Linked DNA regions of Homo sapiens. The protein of the gene in region 1 purifies or fractionates together with the protein of each later gene. This does not show direct contact. Each region holds a gene or a part of one and is shown in the gene's direction. Other genes may lie near its edges.

Region 1 (5,786 bases):
CCTTGAAATTGGATGAAGTTCTCACTCTTCATCCAATCGTGAAGTCAAGTTGGTTTCGTATTTTGTATACATTTCTTTCTATTAATGTTCTCTTATTTCATATCTTCATCCTTTCTGGTTTATTGCATCAGTCTCTTAACTAATCTTGTTTGAATTTTTTTCATTAGTCATTCTAAGCTCCTAGTAGGAGTTATCTTGCCAAAATAAAATGTGAATTTGATTGTCAACCATACTTTGCCTGTAATCCTTTAGTGGCTCCTCAGACTTTGACATAAATCAAAAATTGAGAGTCATACCACCTGTGTCCAAATCCTGGTTTTTGCCAGTTACTAGCTATGTGACCTTGGGCAAATCATTTAAAATGTCTGTACCTCAGCTTCCCCATCAATAGACTGGGGATAAAAATAGTACCTACTTCATAGGATTATTGTGAGCCCTTGAAGTGCTGGCAAGTCCTTAGGATGCTTTTGGCATATTATAGTTTACAGGAAGCTGCAAAAATAGAGAGGGCACTGTAACTTTTCCCCAGTTTCCCCTATTGGTTACATCCTACATAACTTTAATACAATATTAAAACCAGGAAATTGACATCAGTACAATGTGTGTGTATAGTTCTATGCCATTTTATCACAGGTGTGTAGATTGCATAATCACCACCAAAATCAAGGTACAGAACTCTTACTGCAAAGATTGAATGATTCTCCTCCTCTTCATAAGTTCTGTTGTTTTGTCAATATAGCTAAGGAGAAAGATAACCAATTATTGGATCAGTAATTTCACTCTTTGCCTTATGTAATACAGTCATGTAGTACATAATGATGTTTCAGTCAAAAACGGACTGAATATATGACAGTGGTCCCATAAGATTATATCATATTTTAACTGTACTTTTTCCAAGGTTTAGAAACACAGATACTTTCCAGTGCGTTACAGTTGCCTACAATGTTTAATACAGTAACATGCTGTACAGGTTTGTAGCCTAGGAGCAATAGGCTATACCACCTAGGCTTGTGTAAGTACACTCTATGGTGTTCGCTCAACAATGAAATTGCCTAATGGTGCGTTTCTCAGAGTGTATCTCTGTCATTAAGTGTTGCATTGGCACATCCTGAAAGTTTTTATGAAAAATTCCACTTAAACTTTCTTTTAAAAGTTTATTTTTTAGATGAACCTGACATTGCAAACATACCAATTTTTTTTTTTGTTATGAGAATCTGAATATTGGCTAGGTTTTTTTTTTTTTTCTTTTTTTTGAGATGGAGTTTCGCTCTTGTTACCCAGGCTGGAGTACAATGGCGCGATGTCATCTCACCGCAACTTCTGCCACCCAGGTTCAAGTGATTCTCCTGCCTCAGCCTTCCTGAGTAGCTGGGATTATGGGCATGCGCCACCATGCCCGGCTAATTTTGTAGTTTTAATAGAGACGGGGTTTCTCCATGTTGGTCATGCTGGTCTCGAATCCCCCCTCAGGTGATCCACCCGCCTTGGCCTCCCAAAGTGCTGGGATTACAGGCGTAAGCCACTGGTCGGCTAGTTTTTTTTTTTTAAATGAGGAATTATAATATTAGGACCCATTAAAATTTTCTGGTAAAAGTTAACGATAACATTGAAATTGTCCACAAATAAAATGTGTAAGATTTAAATGAGGCTGGGCGTGGTGGCTCATGCCGGTAATCCCGGCACTTTGGGAGGCCAAGGCAGATGGATCATGAGGTCAGGAGTTCAAGACCAGCCTGACCAACATGGTGAAACTTTGCCTCTACTAAAAATACAAAAATATAGCCGGGCGTGGTGGCACACACCTGTACTCCCAGCTACTCAGGAGGCTGAGGCAGGAGAATCACTTGAACCTGGGAGGCGGAGGTTGCAGTGAGCCAAGGTGGCGCCACTGCACACCAGATTGGGCAACAGAGCGAGACTCTATCTCAAACAAACAAACAAAAAAAGATTTAAATTTTAAATAAATTCAAGGCTTACATGGTATGTTTGTTGCTAGAGAGGATATGTTAGAATCTGTGTTAGATAACCAAAATTACAGCTATTTTGACATTAGTTTGGTTTTGACAGTGTTAATGCAAACTTGTCAGATTAATTGATTGTCAGCATATGTCATAGTTTTATTTTGTACTTGTTGCAAGGGAACTAGCTTTAAAGGAAGTTAGTTCAAAGATATTTTCAGAAAAAGGATCTTTACAGAATAAAAGGGGAGGTTATGGTTACTATTTTTGTTAGGTACAAGTTAAAGGATAGTTACAGGGTTGGTTATACTTTGCTGCCCCTTAATCAGCCATATGATTATAAAGCCTGTCTTAAAAGATGAGGCTGTTAATCCAATATACTATCGATTATTACAGACAACAACGGAAGTCTGCTTTAAACAGGCTAACAAAATATTTTCAAATGTATTAACAAATAAAGGTAGATCACCTGATTTTTGTCTTCTCTGGGTTTGAGACAATTTTTCATTTGTCAATACTGTGATAATTTCTATTAAAAAAAGACAAAGTTTAATTTGTTTCATTAGCAGGAATATGACAAATATTGATGGTACTTCCTGATAAATAAGATTCATATTTACAAAGCTTTTTGGCTACCTGTGATTTCAGTTTTTTCCTGGTAGAATTATTTTTTCCTCCTTGGATTTATGTTTCTAGCTTTCTATTTGTCTTGGTGTACGTACTAAAAAATAATGCTTGAATTAGGGATCATTTGGCTTCAAGGACAGGCGTTGTAGGGATTCAGCTGTTTTGGGTTGAAGAAGAGTGACTAGACCTTGTGTGAATGGGAGAAACGTTAGGAATCTGAGAAGCTAGTCTCTCAAGCTCTCGTTCTGGTGATAAATGGTTTCTTGTCTCAGCATCTCCTTCCATGTCTGCTTCATCTCCCTTTCTCACTTCTCCCTTCCAGTTCTGTTTGTATTGCCCTGGTTTTTCATAGTCTCTGCTTCTCTGACTGGTAAGTGGATTTGATTTGCCATGGTGTTGACTTGAACTGTTCTTTCAACTAGAGTTTACCTGTTGATGGTGACAGTGTGTTTCTTTTAGTTCAGTTGGCAAGAGAGAAATCTGAATGCATTGCATGACCACCATGACTTAAATGTCTATCCTTATCCCGTGACCTTGGTGGGAGGTAGCGTGGAAAGCACCTTTTATATGAGGCTTAAGCTTTTAGATGCTTTTTATGAGGAGGGTTCTCTTGTTGGTGTTGAACAAGGCACTCAGTTAAACATGTCAAGTCTAGCAGTGCGTGATGAGGTACTTTGTGGGATACAAAGATAGGTTGGATTTAATCCTTTTCTGCAAGGATCAGTTTGCTGGAAATAGCAAAAGACTCCTATAATTTAAGATTTGCTTTTTATTCTAGTCACCTCAGGCAAACCAGAAAGATGACAAAGTAGGACTATAAGAACTAGCTAGGATTAAGGAAGGAGAATGAGAGGTAGCCCTGGATACATGAACGTACTATCTCTACAGTTTGGATCACTAACCTACTAAGCATGAAAGTATCTAGAAGCCATTGTATCAGGATCCTCATTGCTGCTATCAAAGACTATCCCTTATTGAATAAAGAAGCTCTTATTCATATCAAGTAGACATTCTTTTGTCCCATCATTAAGATCTAGAGACATCTTAGGAGAACTCATTTCATCACTACTCTAGGAACTGGAACATTCTCATAGGCACCCTCTATCTATATAGTGACAACTGTTCTCTTAGCAAATGTCATTCATCCCTGACAAGAAAATTTGTGCCTTCTTTCTTTAGAGACAATAAGCAGGAATTCAAATAGTTGAGTCTGTAGTAGTGAGCATCTTGTTCTCTGCAGATCTGGCAACAAAAGAATTGACATACTGGGTCAATCCAATGTCCAGTCAACACCATAGGTGATATTTAACAAAAGCTCCATGATTTCAGGGAAAGGAACTGGAGCTTTTTATTCCTATGTCAGTATTGGAGTTTATATGGACTTCAGAGCTAAAATTTCCATATCCAAGTCTTTATTATATTACCAAACCAGGGCCAAGATTTTTAGAAATAAGTACAAGTCAAGGATAGGCAACTAAGGAACCTAGAAGATTGGAGTCAGATTACAAAGCCACAGGAGATAAATAGTTGGGGAGTCACAGAGTTCTAAGCACTTAGGCTACAACAGAAGGAAACAGTGATCTCAACTTTTGTGTTGAAGAATTGCCTGGAAAAAGTATTAAAATTTTAGTTTCTGGCTGGGCGCAGTGGCTCACACCTGTAATCCCAGCACTTTGGGAGGCTGAGGTGGGCGGATCATGAGATCAGGAGTTCAAGACCAGCCTGGCCAACATGGTGAAACCCTGTTTCTATTAAAAATACTAAAACATTAGCTGGGCATCATGGCGCGCCTGTAATCCCAGCTACTCGGGAGGCTAAGGCAGGAGAATTGCTTGAACTGGGAACTGGGAGGCAGAGGTTGCAGTGAGCTGAGATTGCGCCACTGCACTCCAGCCTGGGCTACAGAGCAAGATTCCGTCTCAAAAAAAAAAAAAAAAAATATATATATATATATATATTTTGTTTCCTGAGTTCTACCCCCAGATTCCTAAAATCTGAGATGGGCCCAGGAATATATATCCTTCATAAGTATATCAGGTAATTCTAATTGGTATAGTCCTCAGAATGCTTGGAAAATGCATAGACAGCATAATGTCTACTTAGAACCTATTATATGCTTTGTTCTGTGGAAGTCTCAAATATCTGTTTATAATTGGGAGTGTTTCTTTCCTGATATTTGCCTGCCTCATATTAAACACTGTGTCCATCCTCTCTGATTGCTTATGTCAGTAGATCGTGACATGGGCTATATTTTGCGTAAATATGATTATTTTTCTAGATGTTGTACTTAACAGTATTATGCCCTAAACATCTAGTTTTTATGGTTATGGCATCAGCTCATTTTCTTAAACTCTGTATTTTTGTATATGAACTCTTAAGAAGACAGTCTTTTTTTATTCCCACCTTTTGTCATTAAGTTCTCCTTTATTCTAATTTTCTGGATCTGGTAAGCGAGTTTTTTTTGTTTGTTTTTTAACCTTATATACTTTGGAATATCAGCCATCTCTTGAACCTTTGCACTCATGAATTAATTTCTCACCTTTTAAGGTCTGTCATTCTTTTTGGAGTCTTAATTACTCTTAGAATATTGAGCTGGTTGTGAACATGAACTTTGGAGCCATATTGTCTAGGTGCAAATCTGATCTCCACTACTTAACCCTGTAATTTTGTGTAAACCTCTATGTGTCTCATCTGTAAACTGGGCATAGATAAATAATACTATTTATTCATATACATAATAGGATTCTTGTGAGTATATGATTCAACATTTGCAAAGTGCTTAGAGTAGTGGTTGTTACACCTTATCTTATTATTAGTTGTCCTGTTCTTTTTCCTAGGTAATACTCCCCTCCTTAATCTTTAGAATTCTCTATTTGTTGCAAATAATCCCTTTCTGGCTAATTTATTTTTTCTTTGTGTATTTATTTTCTTCTGAGTTTTCCTTTTTTAGCTCTTAGCTGCATTTGATGTAATATTTCCCCTTAAAATTTTTTCTATACAAGTGTTTCTTCCATCATTCTTTTCTCTCTTGTTAAAATTACCTCTGGTCTTGAAGTTCCTAGATTTGAAGGCTTTAAATCTCCCTTTAGTACTTTTCTTTTTGTACTTTTCTCCCTCCTCCTCTCACCTAATTTGTCAGTGATCTGCTGATTCTTTCACCCCATAACATCTCTTAGATTATTCTTTTCCTTTATTGTCTAT
Region 2 (5,786 bases), on another chromosome or scaffold:
TTTTTTTTTTCTTTTTTCTTTTTTTTTTTTGTGAGACAGAGTCTTGCTCTGTCTTCCAGGCTGGAGTGCAGTGGTGCAATCTCGGCTCACTGCAAGCTCCACCTCCCGGGTTCTCGCCATTCTCCTGCCTCAGCCTCTCGAGTAGCTGGGACTACAGGCACCGGCCACCACGCCCAGCTAATTTTTTGTATTTTTAGTAGAGACGGGGTTTCACCTTGTTAGCCAGGATGGTCTCTATCTGACCTCGTGATCCACCCACCTCAGCCTCCCAAAGTGCTGGGATTACAGGCGTGAGCCACTGTGCATGGCCTATCTTGGTCATATTTTCATTCTTTAATACCTAGGCCTTTTCTAGCTATTATAAGATTCTCTAGGACCTGGAGATAGAATACAATGCGATGTTAATTCCATAGTACTGGGCATGGGTTCTAATTCTATTGCCTCCTGTAGTTAGGGTGTAACCTGAGACAAGTCACTCCAATCCTCTGGTCTTCCACTTACTTCCAATTAAAATGAATGTAAAGAATCTTCAACTTCTCTAAGAGTATTGATTCGGATCCCAGAAGTTATATCATTCAGGATCACTCAGTGTGGCGTTATTAGGGCTTTGTTAATTTGAACATGCTAACTTCTTTTTCTTCTATTTTTTTAATTTTTTTTTTTTTTCAAGATGGAGGCTTGCTCTGTCACCCAGGCTGAAGTGCAGTGGCACCATCTCAGCTCACTGCAACCTCCACCTCCCAGGTTCAAGCAATTCTCTTACCTCAGCCTCCCAAGTAGCTAGGACTACAGGCGCGTGCCACCACGCCCAGCTAATTTTTGTATTTTTATTAAAGACGGAGTTTCACCATGTTGGCCAGGTTGGTCTCAAACTCCTTAACTCAGGTAATCCACCTACCTTGGCCTCCCAAAGTGCTGGGATTACAGGTGTGACCCACTATGCCCAGCCATTTTTCTTCCATTTTTAAGAAGTTGTTTTGATATTTAAAATCAATGTGCTGGAATGCTATGTATTAAATCCTCTTTAAACAAGTAAAATGTTTGTGCACTCTTACAGTGGCAGCTGAATCCATCAGGAGCTTATGGTCTTGAACAAAATGAGCCTGAAAGGAGAGAAAGTAAGTATTTATGTATTGAGGTGAACTTTGTTGCTGAGGAGAAAGGATATACAGTGAATTTTAATGATCAGGTGATGAAAATTGTGTTAATAGATGGAGCATATTATTTTTGAAGGTTAGATTTTTGCCATTCAATTTGTTCATAAATATTTGTGGGTCTACCATATGCTAGGTGCTATGGAAAGTGCCGATTAATAATTACTCCTATAGAATCTACAGGTTAATACAAATAATTATGCACAAATTGACTTTATAAATTAAATGCATATGAAACAGTAAACAGCAATGCTCTTCTATAACAAAACAAAAGCTTATTGGGGAGTGAGAAAGGAAAAATATGTATAATTAGTACAGATGGATTGGGACCAAATGATGAGGATATATACATTCTTCTAGAGTAAACCCACATTTGCCCAGATTGGAAATGTTCTGGTAACTTGAATAATCTGATTAACTAAGAATCATCACAGCTACCATAATGAATTACTAGTCTTTAAAGCTTTATTATTCGTATACTACTACAGATATTTTGAATGTAATATAATCTTTGAGAAGTCTTACAATTCTTTAGGCACATAATTTTAGATATGAGTGCTATATAATATTATTCTAAAATAGTAACTATAGGCCAGGTGTGGTCACTCACGCCTATAATCCCAGCACTTTGGGAGGCCAAGGCAGGGGGATCACTTGAAATCAGGAGTTCGAGATCAGCTTGGCCAACATGGTGAAACCTCGTCTCCACTAAAAATACAAAAAATAGCCAGGTATCATGGCACATGCCTGTAATCCCAGCTACTTGGGAGTTTGAGGCAGGAGAATCACTTGAATCCAGGAGGTGGAGTTTGCAGTGAGCCGAGATAGCGCCACTGCACTCCAGCCTGGGCGACAGGGCAAAACTCTGTCTCTAAAAATAAAAATAAAACAGTAACTATATTATCGAATTATTTGGATTTGAAGTAAATGGAAGTTTTCTGTAAGTTTTCTTGATAATAACAATTTTTTAACCTTGAAAAATCAAGAAGTATAAAGGTCTTAGAATAATTTTTCTGTGAATATATTGATTTTCAGTGTTCTGAATTAGCTTTATTTGATTCAAATAGAAAATGTATTGTTTGCAATTTGGAAAAAAGTACATATCCACTGCATCTTTCTTTTTAAAAATTTATTAGCAAAAAAGGCTGTATCTATCTATCTATCTATCTATCTATCTATCTATCTATCTATCGGTCTGTCTCTCTGTCTATCTATACATCTGATTAAATAATGTACACTCAATGACAGTGTTTGAAGGGGCCAATGAATAATTTCCTATGTTAGGGAAAGGATACAAAAAGCACGAATCATAAAAAGGTTAATTTATCTATGCTACAATGAAGAATATCTGTTCATTAAAATATATTACTAGGCCAGGTGCAGTGGCTCACACCTGTAATCCCAGTGCTTTGGAAGGCTGAGGTGGGTGAATTGCTTGAGCCCAGGAGTTTGAAACCAGGCTAGGCAACATGGCAAAACCCTCTCTCTACAAAAAATACAAAAATTAGCCAATTGTGGTGGCACATGCCTGTGGTCCCAGCTACTCAGGAGGCTGAGGTGGAAGGATCTCTTAAGCATGAAGAGGTTGAGGCTGCAGTGATCCATGCTTGTACCACTCTACTCCAACCTTGGCAACAGAGTGAGACCCTGCCTTAAAAAAAAAAAAAAAAAAGATATCACTACAAGAGTGCAAAGGCAAGCCATGGAATATGAGAAGATACTTGCCACTTATAATCAACAAAGGGCTTGTATCTAGGATTTATTATTCCTAGATTACTAAGGAAAAGGAAGACATGCTGTGGTTAAAGCCCCAAGATTGGAAGGAGGGGACAAAAGGAAGGCTTCTGGTTTGCTGGCAATGTTTTATTTATTGACCCAGATGATGGTTACATATGTTTGCTTTGTGACAGTTCAACTGAACAGTTAAGTTTATGTTTATGCATTTTTGAACAAGTGTTTGATCTCAGTAAGCAATACCCCATTTCCTTTTTAATTATATGATAGTTTTACTGATATGTAATTCATCTATCATAAATTTGCTTCTTTAGTAGATTCACGAAGTTGTACAGGCATCACTACAACATAATTTCAGAACATTTTCATTATCTGAGAAAGAAGTCTCATGCCTATTTGCAGTCACTCCCCATTCTTCACTCCCCCTAGCCCTAGGCAACCACTCTTTCAGTTTTTATGGATTAGTCTATTCTGGCCATTTCATATAAATGGAATCATACAGTATGTAATTCCTTTCCAATTTTTGATTCAGTTGAGAAATAGACACCAGAATCAACAGATGAAAGTTACAACACCAGCTTTGTTGTTAGACTGGGGCTTGACTTTTGGGTAAATCAGTCTGTCTAACTCAGAGGGGGACTTGCTGCTGGATACTCTCTCAGTGCCAGTAGCAGGGACAAACAGAGAAGGAAGGCAGGCAGTGTGACTGACAACTCTCAAGTGCCCTTCCACTCCATGCAAATGGAACCCAGGTAACCCATAACAAGCATTCTTTTTAAAGAGTCATGGAGCTTTCAAGAAAATAAGAGAAATATTCTCCTAAGAACAAAATAGAGATAAGAAGGCATTTTGCTAGAATCTGAGGAGCAATAGTAAGCGAACACAATAGCCAGAGCTATCCTGGGGACAAATGTCCATATAAGCTGGGATCTGAGATCAGGTCTGGGTCTGCTGCAAGGTGAGTGAACTGAACTTAGTTCACCCAATCAACACATGAAAAGATGATTAAACTTATTAGTAGTCAGAGAAATGCAAATTAACATTGCACGGAAGTAGCTTTTTTTTTGCTTTTTTTTTTTTTTTTTTTTTTTTTTATGACGGAGTCTCACTCTGTCGCCCAGTCTGGAGTGCAGTGGCGTGATCCTGGCTCACTGCAACCTCCACCTCCCAGGTTCAAGAGATTCTCCTGCCTTAGCCTCCCAAGTATCTGGGATTACAGGCATGCACCACCATGCCCAGCTAATTTTGTATTTTTAGTAGAGACGAGGTTTCACCACGTTGGCTAGGCTAGTCTCAAACTCTGGACCTCAGGTGATCTGCCCGCCTTGGCCTCCGAAAGTGCTGGGATTACCGGCATGAGCCACCACGCCTGGCCTGAAATAGCATTTTTTATAAGCGTATGCCCTAGAGAAACTCTTGCATATTGTATAAGAGTCAGAGAGACAAAGAATTTGTTGCTATATTGTTTTTAAAAGCAAAAACTGGAAATAACACAAATGTTTGTTTTGGGTGGTTAGATAAAAATATTATGGTGTATTCCCACAATGGACTACCATATAGCAGTGAAAACAAATGAACTAGAGCTACATTCTTCAACATGGATGAATCTTAGAAATATAAATGTTGAATTTAACAAAGCAAACTACAGAATTATGATACCATTTCTGTATAAAGTTCAAAAAGACATACCATATATTGGTTAAATGTGGTAGGCCAGGCATGGTGCTCACACCTATAATCCCAGCATATTGGGAGACTGAAGCGGGCCAATTGCTTGAGCCCAGGAGTTCAAGACCAGCCTGGGCATCACAGCAAAACTCCATCTCTACAAAAGATACAAAAAATTAGTTTGGCATGGTGGCCTGTGCCTGTAGTCCCAGCTACCGCAGAGGCTGACATAGGAGGATCACCTGAGCCCAGGAGGTTGAGGATGCAGTGAGCTGAGATCACACCACTGCACTCCAGCCTGGGTAACAGACTGAGACAGACCCTGTCTCAAAAAATATATAAATAAATAAATAAAATATACTTTAATATATAGTATATACAGTAAAGTTATTGTTAAGAAGCAATCGATTGATAAACACAAAAATCAAGATAGGAGTTGCCTCTGAGTGGGGTGAAAGGGGATGGGACGAGAGAGGGAGCGCACGGGAATTGATAATGTTCTAGTTGTTGGATTCGGCAGTATGTTTTGTTTTTTTTCCATCTCCCCCCAACACACATAATGTAGTTTTATTCAGTTTTAAACAAACTGTAACTCTTTTGGGGCAGTAAGTTCATGAGTGTTCATTTTATTGTTAGGCTTTAGAACTCCCATCTGTATTATGTATGTATTATTATATATTACATAATACATTATATATAGAGAGAGAGAATGTTTCAAATATTACATGATATGATGAGAACAAGAAAGAGAGAGGGGTGGCTTTCCAGATCTACCTCTGGAAGGCAAGTCTGAGCCCTGGCCCAGGTGTCCTTAGGACAAGGAAACAGCAGGGCAGAACATACAGGCTCAGGGCAGGAAATCCCTCAAAAGATGGGAAGAAAGGGGCAGAAAGAAGCTTTTGCAGGTGATAGATATGTTCATTGTCTTGACTGTGGGGATAGTTTCATGAATGTGTACTTATGTCAGAAATCATGAAACTGGACTAAGCAAAATGGCTCCTTCCTGTGATCCCATCATTTTGGGAGGCTGAGGTGGGAGGATTGCTTGAGGCCAAGAGTTCAAGACCAGTTTGGGTAACAGACTGAGAACCCCATCTCTACAAATATTACAAATCAAAAAGTAAATTAAAAAAATTCATCAAGCTATACACTTTATGTTTAGTTTATTGCATACTTTAAACATGTATCATTTATTGTACAAATAAAGCTATTAAACACAAAAGCCAGGAA
Region 3 (5,786 bases), on another chromosome or scaffold:
GACAGTCCTATTTTGTAATAGGACTGCACCCTCCACCTTTTGGAGGAGGGTGGTGTTTATCATCAGAATGAAGTTATGGTTAGACTTGTTAGAAGGGACAGAGAGACCCAGACCAACTTCATACAATAATGGCTAGGAGATTGGGGATATTTACCTGTTTTTCTGTGTCAGGGAGGGACTGTTGTGTCAATGTTACATAGCAATTTTTATAAGCAGGTTGTATATTTACTATGTTAGTATGCTACCACCTTCTAGAAAAGGCAGAAGGTGGTTTTATATTCTGTTTTTAAAATGTGGTCCTTATTATATAATAATGCTAATAAGATCAGTGGGATTTTTATTGCCTCTTTTTGCTCTCAGCAAATTTATTTAACAGAAAAATAAGCTACCAGTTCATCCTTAACTGGAGCACTATGTAAAGAAATCTGTACCATCCAGAAATTAATTCCAATAAGTCAAGCAAAATGATTAAATGTAATGTTTTTAAATATGCTTCATTGCCTGATTTTGGGCCGTGTTTGTTACTAATATGGTTCTTTTGAACTTTGTTGTTGTGGGTTCAGCTGCATGGTACTATCGGTCTTTGAGCAGTTGATATACAGAGTACACGAGTGTCTTTTTCTAGGACTCTGAGTACACTTTTTCTCTTTTTTCTTTGAGGGAGTCTCACTCTGTCACCCAGACTGGAGTACAGTGGTGCGATCCCAGCTCACCGCAATCTCTACCTCCCAGGTTCAACTGATTCTCCTGCCTCAGCCTCCCGAGTAGCTGGGATTACAGGCATGCATCACCACGCCCGGCTAAATTTTTTGTATTTTTAATGGAGACAGGGTTTCCCATGTTGGCCAGGCTGGTCGTGAACTCCTGGCCTCAAGGGATCCACCCACCTCGGCCTCCCAAAATGCTGGGATTACAAGCGTGAGCCACCGCGCCCAGCCCACTTGTTCTCTTTTAAGTGATGATGCATATTTCTAGTTCCATCTTCACTTTGTGAATTCTGCTTGGTTAGATCTGCCACATGGTTGATACCAGGCCCTTGGACTGAATCACAGCCTTCAGTGATAACCTTGGCCATATAGGAGAGTATACTCAAGAGTAGGGCCAACTTGGGTTTTTTCTTTCATTTCCTTTTCCTACTGGACAAAGGGAAAATACCCTTGTGTCTTTGCAGGCATGTGGTATACTCACAGATTTTCTCAGCTTTCATTTAACACGACCACATCCATTATAAGGAGAAATTTTGCTTTTTTTTTTTGAGACAGAGTTTCGCTTTGTCACCCAGGCTGGAGTGCAGTGGTGTGATCTCAGCTCACTGCAACCTCCACCTCTCAGGGGTTCAAGCAGTTCTCCTGCCTCAGCCTCCCAAGTAGCTGGGACTACAGGTGCCCGCTACCACGCCTGGCTAATTTTTGTATTTTTAGTAGAGGTGGGGTTTCACCATGTTGGCCAGGCTGGTCTCGAACTCCTGACCTCAAATGATCCACCCACCTCGGCCTCCCAAAGTGCTGGGATTACAGGCATGAGCTACCGCTTCCGGCCGGAATTTTGCTTTATTTGTTTTTCAAATAAATGTTGTTCCCTGTGATTTCATAGAATTAAAAATAATTTTAAGACTAATCTTTTTAGAAGAAACTACTATGATAAGCCTCATGAATATAGTAAGTAATGGGGTTCCTGTCCAGAGAAGGGAGAAAGGCTTCTTCTTCCATTGGTCAGGATAAGAGTTAAATATTTTAAAGAAGATTGGAAAACAGAATCATATCTTGTCTTCTCTTAACCTACAGGGAGCTGAGCGGAAAATCAGGGATGAAGAACGAAAGCAAAGCAAAAGAAAAGGCAAGTGTCCTGACCCCAGCTCCCAGGTGAATGCCTGTAAGTAGAAATGTTCCCGGCAAGCTTCAGACCTTTTCCATTGAGAATGGTGGCTGGAGTTTGCACGCAGAAGACAGTGGGTGTTCTTCCTGTTCTGCAGTGTGGCACTGCCTCTTCCTCAGATCAGCAGCAGATGCCAGCTCAGCGGGAGGGGTTTTCCTGGGGACTACAGGATAGATCCCTGGGTTTTCCCGACCTCAGCGTTTTTGGCTCTCAGTTCTAGTTCAGACTTCTGTTTCCAGTCTTGAAAAATGACAACACGTTCTGCATGAATCACTGTTAAAATTGGGACTTATCTAGATTTTTTAAAGTAATAATAATGGTCTTGAGAATTCAAGATGTCTTAACTCCAAGTAAGATCATATTTTGTATCTAAAGTATAGTATTTTAATATTTGCAGAATCTATAGGGCTTCTGTTTGGACATTTCACCAGGAAGGCTTTGTTTTCTTTTTTTTTTAATTGTGACCAGTATTCATATTCACAAAATCTTGTATCTAAAATGAAGAAAGTGCTGTTCTGTGCCTGTAGGGTTCCATCTGTAGTACATGGGCTTCTGGCAGCTCTTTTGAATGGTCTGTCTGGCTCAGCAGACATTTGCCCTGCAACACCTTAGTCAGGATTCTCCTACTGGTATCAAAGTACAAACTCCCAGTGACACTTCAGAGAGCAGCTGACTAACTAGGAGACCTCATTACTGAGTACTTCAGGGCCAGCCAGATCATTGGGGAAGATGGAGTCTCTAACTTACTAAATTAAAAATTGGATGGGCATGCTTACACTTCACCTCATTGTCGAGTTTCTTGATATGTTCTGAAGTCAATGGGTCCATGAGTGTTGGAATGTAAATTATTTAATGAGGACAGCTGAGGTGAAATTTCTTCCAAATTATGTTTACACAATTATACATTTTAGCCTTTCCAATGAAAACTAAATACGCTCTGCCTCTGTCGCAAATCTTCTGTGGATATGCGTCTGTGTGTGTTTGAAGATACCTTTTCCCTTTTGATTTGATAAGACATTCAGTTGATTTTAGTGGAAATACACACAACAAATTCCTTTACATAAACTGGGATTCTTAGGCAGGCAGCGTGCCCTGTTGTATCTTACAGAGTGCTACACTTGGAGTATCTTACTCAGAGGCGAGCACTCTGTGGCCTGCATCCAGTCTGTATGTAATCCTTTGACCTTGGCTTCCTCTTTTTTAATTTTTTTTTTTTTCAGTTTCTGATGTTAAAGTGCCACTGCTTCCCTCTCACAAGCGAATGGATATCACAGTTTTCAAACCCTTCATTGATCTCGATACTCAGCCTGTCCTCTTCATTCCTGACGTGCACTTTGCCAACTTGCAGCGGGGCACTCATGTAGGTAACCAGGATCCCAGGGGAGGTTACCAGGAAGGAAGGCATGGCAAAAGGAAATTCTTTGGCATTATTCATGGGAAACAGAAGCCAAAATTGAGTGAGGTTTGACCAGTTAGTCAGCTCTTTGGAATATTCTGCTGGGGTGACATGATGCCCGTGCAATAAAAATGGTAAGCATCGCTGATTTCAAGGTGCAGTGCAGCCTGTCAGCTTTATTCTGTTTGTATTCATTCATTCATTCGTTCGTTCTTCATACCTACATATCCTAGCTCATTTAAAAGATTCTAGAATAGTAGCATAATTTGGAGTTTGAGCCTGTCATCTTTTTAAACTTAACTTGGGGCAATACCTAGGTTAAGGAGCTCTTATAACATAAGAACATCCGAAGGCTTTTCTCACAGTTCCAGTTACTGAGCCGTCCTTGCCACGTGTAGTTACCAATGGCCATGTCTTGGCAACTAAAACTAAATTTTAAAAAATGGTCACGCCCTGTTTTGTGGCAAAGGCTTACAAGGGATAGAAACTTCAGTAGAATGAAGCATGGTTTTATGCTGAGTGCAAATAAATATCAAAAAGACAGTCTTTCATGCACTTTGTGGACAGATTTATAAGGACTAAAGATTCGTCAGAGTTCTTGGGGCCATGGCCAGTACATTTAGTTTCTAATGGGAAGCTGGAGGTGAGCAGGGGTTAGCACACTGTTTTTGTGAAGGGCTGGGCCGTAAAGGTTTTCAGCTTTTGGGGCCCCGTGGTCTCCACTGTGCTGCTCAGTGCTGCCGAACTAGTGCACACATGGCCATAAGCAGCATGTGAATGAATGAGCGTGGCTTTGTTTCAGTAAAGACTTTATTTACATGAACTGGCTTTAGACCAGATTTGGCCCAACCACTGAGTTAAAGGAGTTCAAGACATCTGTAAGAATCTGTTATTGAAAACTAAGGCTAAAGGATTTTATATTAGATTGGTGAAATTCAAAATTATTTCCATTTTAGGAATAATTCATTTATGGCCAAACATTTTGAGCATACATTTGAAAAGCAATCTATTCCTTTGGTCTTAGGTCCTTCCCATTGCCTCTGAAGAATTGGAGGGTGAAGGGTAAGATTTATGTTTTGTTTTGTTTTGTTTTAATAATGGAAATGATTTCAAACTTGTAGAAAAACTGCAAGTACAGTACAAAGAACTCATTTTTCCCTGAGCCATCAAGGATAAGTTGCCAGCCTGATGGCCCATCACTCCTGAATATCGTGGTATATATTTCCTACCAACAAGGACATCCTCCTGTGTCACAGTCAAGATTAGAATATTAACATTGCTTCATTAGCACCAATAATGTCCTTTATAGCAAAAAAGGATCCAGTTCAGGATCACACATTGTAGTTGTTTGTCATGTTTGTTGATCTTCTTCAGTCTAGAACTAAGCCACTCCTTAACTTTTCTGACCAAATATTTTTGAAGATTACAACCAGCTGTTTTGTAGACTCTTCTTAGTTTGCGTGTGTCTGCTGCTCTCTCATGGTTAGATTCCAGGCCTGGCAGGGATGTCATAGAGGCCAGGCTGGGTTCTCCGTGTGTCCTAGCAGATGGCGCTTGATGTCAGTTTATCTGTTACTAATGGTGTTCTTTGGTCACTTGATTAAGCTGGTATCTGCCAGCTTCTCCACTGCAAAGTGGCTCCTTTTATAGTAAGTGTTGTCTGGGGAGGTGCATTGTAGCTTTGTAAATATCTCATTCCCCATCAAACTTTCAGTTTACTCGTTCATTTATTGCTATCAGTATGAACTCATAGTTTCCTGTTTTATTCAATAAGCTGTGATTCATTAGTCATTTACTTTGATGCTCAGGTTGTCCCAGAATTGGGCTCTGCCTTCCTGTGCCGGGCAGCCCCCTACTCATGCTGCCTAGTGGAGGGGGGCTGACGCTACCCCTCTTTGGGCTATCAGAACCTTCTTGATGGCTCTGGGACTTTTTCAACAAGGCAAAGATTCTTTTTGTTTTTATTTCATTTTACTTTTAGAGACAGGGTCTTGCTCTGAGGCCCATGTAGGAGTGCAGGGGTGCAGTCACAGCTCACTGCAGCCTTGAGCTTCTGGGCTTAAGTGATCCTCCTGCCTCAGACTCCTGAGTAGGTGGGACTACAGGCACATGCCACCACACCCATCTAATTATTATTATTATTATTATTATTATTATTATTATTATTATTGTAGAGATCCTGGTCTCAGGCAATCCTCCCGCCTCAGCCTCCCTCTTTCTGTTATCTGCCCTCAGAAAGGTGCATCCTGATGGAGAGAGCCAAGATTTCCATGGGAAGTTCATTCCTCAGCATCCCTCTTCCCTCATCTTCCATCCATTCCCAGGGCTTAAACCGTCATACTGGGGACATTCATGCCCCACACGTTACCCATCGTGCCTCTCTTTGAAGGCGAGGCCTGCACTGCCCCTTTGATTCTTAGTGTTTCAGGCTTGAGTCCTGCCGGCACTTTCACTAGACGGCTGCTGTGTGTTAGGAACTGAGGTGGCAGAGTCTCGGAGGCTCAGCCCCTGCTCC
Region 4 (5,786 bases), on another chromosome or scaffold:
AGTATGATTGTACATTGGAATATGAAGTTAAAAGATGTGAAATACTTGGCTACATCATGTCTTACTAATTAAATACTCATGTAGTCAGAGCCATTATTGTGCCTTTCATCTTGAGCTATATCACTTAGATGATGCAGTGATCTTATTTTTACTAATCATTGTTAGTTAGTAGTAATTAAATTGTCAAAACCAGTGGCAGGAATAGTTATCTGTGACTGGTTGTTTATAGTCAGACAGATGCTTGCAGTGAAACTGCTTCTTGATCTTCTCGTGTCTGCCCTTGCCCTCACTGCACCCACCTCACCTGAACTTGTCAAGGACAGTGTCTGCCTTCTTCTTTCTGTCCTGGACCCTGGCATGCCTATTACATTGTCCTGACCTGCATCCCAGGCAGGGCCCATAAAACAAGAAGTGAGACAGAATACAACATGAAGGAAGACTTCAGCTTGGAGCCTCACTCTCTGAGAGGACCAGTCTCAGTTTTAAGTATTTACTGAGCCCCCATTTTACTGTAAAATACTGAAGTAGGCATTCTATGCTGTATGGATGATAAACAGAAATAAAACCTAAACTCTGATTGGAAAAGTGAGGTATAGGACAAGCATGAAAAAGTACAAGCATGGAAACACCAACAAATACAATAATAATAATAATAATAATAATAATAGTGTCCATAAGTCAGTAGATTAAATCTCTAGGTGCCCATTTTACATATTCATAACATGCCATGTAGCTACATACATAATGTAGTCAGAAGGGGGAGGGGACTTGATTTTTGAATTTTATTTTGTTTTCCTTAGATGCTGCTTAATTCTATCTAGTTAAGGAAGAGAATTGGACAGAATTCAGGAGAGGAAAAGTGGGTGAAGGAGTTTGTGGAGTTTTAGCACGGCACCCTGTGATCACCTCTCCACAAGCATTTACACCTTTCTCTGTATGGGCATCAGATGAGATTGATAACTGAGCTGGGGAAATTGGGAGGGAAAGGCTTCATGAGCCAATGCGAGATGCAGAGCTGATCTCTGTTCCAGCATGAACACCAGCCTCTCCATTCTGTGTCTGTTTGCATTGAGACAAAGCAAGAAGGTTTCCTATGATCAAACGCATATCCTTGTGTTGCCAGGGACACCACGATCATCAACCACTCACGGAATGGCAGCTACGGAGAGAGCTCGCTGGAGGCCCACATCTGGCAAGAGGAGGAGGAGGTGGTGCAGGCCAACAGAAGGTGTCAGGACATGGAATACACGTAAGGGACGACTATGTGTGACGTGTGGGGCCCGCTGCATTCACACTCCAGGCCTTCCAGAACAGATTGCTTCTCTGTCCTGTTCTGAAAGGCTGTGAGCATGAGGTCTCCAAAAACTCTCCTCCCCCATGCTGTGCCATGGAGAGAAGGAAAAGGTTCCAACCTAAGCACGTGGTTCCACTCAGCAATGGATCTGGTGCCGGAGTTCTCTGGGGGAAATTGCGTGTCACCTGCCGGTTTTAAGATGCAGGCTGAGTCTAGTGACAGAAGAATTTAGATGTCTGTGTTATTTCTTGGTGTCTATCTCTATGACATTATGAGCTGAAAGGGGGAAACATTATATCCCAAAGATTCAGAGTTTTTGAGCCAGAATTTATATATTCCAGTCCAAAATAAAGAACATATTTAGCTAATGCACTCTTCTGATGGGCTACACAAAATTTCCAGCAGACTTTTTGACATAATAAAACTAGCCTGTCCCCCTTCACTACCTAAGGGCTTGTGGAACCCTGGGAGCCCTAGGCCTCTTATTTTGCAGATGTGAAAATAGGGCTGAGTAGTTGAGCCATTGATAGATAGGCTCAGTGAGTTACTATCAAAGTTGTGAAAATAACTCAGCATTCTTCCAGAAAAATCATCTTCTACCAGAGAACCTGTTCATCTTGGTTCTTTTTTCTTAGAAAATAGAGAAATTGACTTTAGCTGAAAGCTCACCCTGTTTGAGGCTTTAGAGTTTTTATGCTTCCCTATCCCCTACCTACCCCCGGCCCCCACCGCCAATGCTAGACCCTCTAAATATGGTCCCCAGCCGACTTCGGTCCAGGAATGTGGCCACGGTCATTCTAACTGTACCTCGCTGAAGTCCCAGTCTCCCAAGGTGCCAGAGAAGGTGTACTCTTTTGACATATGACAAAAGACCTGTCTTAACAATTTGGAGATTATCAACATTTGAAGACTCGTACTGTGCTTCATCCTGTATCCCTAAATTACAATTAAAGTCTTTGGGACAGCCTGAGATAAATGTTTCAAGTTTTTCTAGCCAAGTGGCTTTTTATGGAGACTGTTTTGTTTTGTTTTACAGTATTAAAAATCTCCATGCCAAAATCATAGAGAAAGATGCTATGATTAAGGTCCTGCAGCAGCGATCTCGTAAAGATGCCGGGAAGACAGACTCCTCCAGCCTACGTCCTGCCCGCTCCGTTCCATCCATAGCAGCAGCTACTGGGACACACTCTCGCCAGACCTCTCTTACCAGCAGCCAGCTGGCTGAGGAAAAGAAGGAAGAGAAGACCTGGAAGGGGAGCATAGGTGAGCCCCACACCTCTGTCAGACCATGATTGGAAAAGCAAGACCAGACAGCTTCTCTGCCACTCATGGGACACGGAAATGTCCCTGAATAGTTCCTGGTCTCAGTTTACTCATCTGTGAAGTGGGGAGGGAAATCAGTCATACTTCAGTTATAGATATGTGGAAGCATTGTGTAAATTCTAAAGACTGCACCACTGGAGTAGCTCTTAGCCATGGGTTGACTCAGATCAGAATTATCTATTATTGTTGTAAGTTGAGGTGACCCTTATAACACAAAAGGCTCTCATAGAAAAGCCTAGAGACATCACGCCTCTGAACTTGGCTCTGCTCTAGACCAGTTGTATGACGGCTCCACCTCTGCTTCCACGTCTGGAAAGGGAGGACAGTGTCTGCCTGCTTTACCCCATGGGGAGTGGGAGGGAATAATGGGATAATGGGGGGAGGAGAGTGTCTGCCTGCTTTACCCCATGGGGCGTGGGAGGGAAGAATGGGATAATGGTGGGAGGAGAGTGTCTGCCTGCTTTACCCCATGGGGCGTGGGAGGGAAGAATGGGATAATGGGGGGAGGACAGTGTCTGCCTGCTTTACCCCATGGGGCGTGGGAGGGAAGAATGGGATAATGGGGAGAGCACATTGGAAGAAGTGCTCTCTCGCATAAGGTAGGGGTGGTAAGTTTTTGCTGTATTGTTGTTGCATGGGCAGAATTCCCTAAGTGTGGTCTTAGCCAGGAGTAGGTTTCTTGGGGGCAGGCAGGCTTGTTGGCTGGCTGGGCTAGCCAAGCTGGAGGGGAAGCAGGCAGCGTGCTCAGACACAGGTCCTCCACATCCTTCCCCTGCACTCTGGCCTCTCCAGGGGTCTGGCCCTTCTTTGATGCATTTCCCCACATCAGATCGTGTTTTTGTTTCTCTGTGCAGCTGAGAGCCAGTGGTCCTCAGCATAAGACCCCAAAGGAGACTGGCTGCTCTGGGCCAGAGGGGATAAGAGCTTCCATATGAACCCGACAGAGTTGGGGGGATCAAAGGCTCCCAACCAGAATCTGTGTTTGAAGTCCCTCCACTGGTGGCTTCAGCAGCCCCTGCCCCCAAAGGAAATGCACTTCAAAGAAGACGTGTGTGGACAGCAGCTGAGATCATCAAAGACTGTCCCAAGGACATTTAGCTCCCACCCCAGCTAGAGAGCTGGGAGGCAGTGCTGAGCCAGGCCTGGTCAAGGAGTTTGAAAATTTGCTCAGCTCTGGTAGCAACCTCCCTGGGAGTCCCCTGTTTGTGACGTGCAGCCAGGCAGGCATCTCTGGTGTCTGTGCCCGTATGCCCCAGGACCTGGCATGTCTAAACCAGGCCTGGGAGCCGGAGGACTTGTTTGAAGGAAGAGCTGCTGTGTTCCCTGCACTGATATTCCTCCTCATTGTTGTCATTGGTGTCCACGTGTCACAAACACAGGGACTCTCCAAGGGGCTGAGGCAGGTTCATGGGTGACTGCACAGTTCCCCACATGTTGTCACCATTGCTTGCCTGATAGGCTCTGGAAGGAGGTGGAGGTGACAGCATATACCTTCCCAATTGCCCAGGGTATCCCAGGAGCTATGGCTGGCTAGTGACTTATTCAGCCTGTCACTCCCTACGAGGACATCCTGCAGACTCTGGAGTTTCCACAGGCTGGGCGATGAAGTGGAAAGAACATAGGTTGGACTCCAAGTCAGGCACAGTTGGGTTTGAGTCCCATTTCTGCTGCTTCTTAGCTGTGAGATGTTAGTTTTTGTGAGCTTCCATTTCCTTCTCCGTAAGACAGGATAAGGCCTGTCTCGCAGGAATGACATGCAGTATGAAGTGAGATGATGTGGGAAGCGCAGGTGAAGGCCTTTGCTGCTCAGCGTGGTCTGTGGACCAGTGGCACCAGCACCATCTGGGAGCTTCTTAGAAATACAGAATCCCAGGCCCTGCCTGCTGGATCAGGTCTTCCTTTTAACGGTATAGCCAAGTCATTGTTATGCACATTGCATTTTGAAAAGCACTGCTCTCGACAAACTGAACTGCCCTGAGTTCTAAATGGGCACCTTAAAACAGCTCTGGCGAGGATACTTTATGAATTGCTGGCTATCTAACCAGATAAGAGAACAAATACTTGATTGCGCTTACCGCCTTTTCTATAGGCTAGCATTCTAGGGTGCTGGCACTTTCCCGCGTGTGTGCTGTATTTAAAAATAAAAAGTTATCCTCCCACCCAGCTTTCCAGGAAGGCTCTGAGGAAAATGGACACCTCTGCACACCACGCCTCCCATTTCCATAGCCAGCATCCCCTCTTCCCCACCCCAGCCTCACTACTCTTGAGGAAGGGGGTAAGGAGAGGGCTAAGTGGCCTTTCCTAGGAGGCTGGCTGGCTTTCTGCTTCTGGGAGGCTACAGTTCCACCGCAGAAATGTGCAGGTAGCATGTTTATCTTTGAATCCAAGCCTGTGGGGGACCATCATCCATTACAAGGAGTGGGGTGGAATTGTGAACTATTCAGAAGAGCAGCAAGCCAATGGGAACATGTCTAGGACCGGGGAAGCCTTGTAGTTTTTCTTAAGCACACTGCCACGCTTCAGGCCAGCCCTTCTGGGCCACGTTGGTAACAGCAAGCATGGTCTCTGGAAAGCCTTGTGGGAACCTCCCTACCCCTCCTGCTGGCAATTAGGCACTTCTCTGTTCGTCCATACCACCCTGTGAATAATTTATTTGTATCCTACAGTTTATATATTAAGTTATAATCAGTTTACTTGACAACTACTTCTCCACTCCAAAAAAAAAAAACAAAAAAAACACACAAAAAAAACCTACAATTTTTTAGGAAGGGGACTAGGTCTTCCATTTTTTATTCTCTCAGTGTTTGTTATTTTATCAGCCTTGTAATAAGTGTTTATTAAATGCTTGGGGAATGAATCAATGAATGAATGAAGCAATCATCAATCAACAAGGAACAGATCTGCAAGACTAGATTTAAAAAAAAAAAAAGGAAAAAAAGAATGTTGAAAAATCTGTTCTCTGCCCTCAGGATTGCTGCTGGGGAAGGAGCACCATGAGCATGCCTCTGCCCCACTGCTGCCACCCCCACCCACCTCAGCACTGTCCTCCATAGCCTCCACTACGGCAGCCAGCAGTGCCCACGCCAAGACAGGCAGCAAGGACAGCAGCACACAGACTGACAAGAGTGCCGAGCTCTTCTGGCCCAGCATGGCCTCCCTTCCCAGCCGC

Evidence for each region.
Region 2: the proteins of HMBOX1 (region 1) and CDADC1 purify together in Homo sapiens (affinity purification with mass spectrometry, with the first as the bait; one large-scale study listed by BioGRID). This does not show direct contact.
Region 3: the proteins of HMBOX1 (region 1) and GRHL1 purify together in Homo sapiens (co-immunoprecipitation; one large-scale study listed by IntAct). This does not show direct contact.
Region 4: the proteins of HMBOX1 (region 1) and AMOTL1 purify together in Homo sapiens (affinity purification with mass spectrometry, with the first as the bait; one large-scale study listed by BioGRID). This does not show direct contact.

What each region holds. Positions count from the first base shown.
Region 1 is NC_000008.11:28,895,749-28,901,534, forward strand, and holds part of HMBOX1 (homeobox-containing protein 1), read left to right. Parts: intron 1-5,786. UniProt on the Homo sapiens protein: Binds directly to 5'-TTAGGG-3' repeats in telomeric DNA. Associates with the telomerase complex at sites of active telomere processing and positively regulates telomere elongation.
Region 2 is NC_000013.11:49,285,165-49,290,950, forward strand, and holds part of CDADC1 (cytidine and dCMP deaminase domain-containing protein 1), read left to right. Parts: intron 1-1,057; coding exon 1,058-1,118; intron 1,119-5,786. UniProt on the Homo sapiens protein: Catalyzes the deamination of cytidine and deoxycytidine into uridine and deoxyuridine, respectively. May play an important role in testicular development and spermatogenesis.
Region 3 is NC_000002.12:9,988,912-9,994,697, forward strand, and holds part of GRHL1 (grainyhead-like protein 1 homolog), read left to right. Parts: intron 1-1,784; coding exon 1,785-1,836; coding exon of another isoform or gene 1,837-1,872; intron 1,873-3,095; coding exon 3,096-3,235; exon of another isoform or gene 3,236-3,405; intron 3,406-4,063; exon of another isoform or gene 4,064-4,295; coding exon 4,296-4,333; exon of another isoform or gene 4,334-5,786. UniProt on the Homo sapiens protein: Transcription factor involved in epithelial development. Binds directly to the consensus DNA sequence 5'-AACCGGTT-3'.
Region 4 is NC_000011.10:94,863,612-94,869,397, forward strand, and holds part of AMOTL1 (angiomotin-like protein 1), read left to right. Parts: intron 1-1,123; coding exon 1,124-1,249; intron 1,250-2,330; coding exon 2,331-2,557; intron 2,558-5,586; coding exon 5,587-5,786. UniProt on the Homo sapiens protein: Inhibits the Wnt/beta-catenin signaling pathway, probably by recruiting CTNNB1 to recycling endosomes and hence preventing its translocation to the nucleus.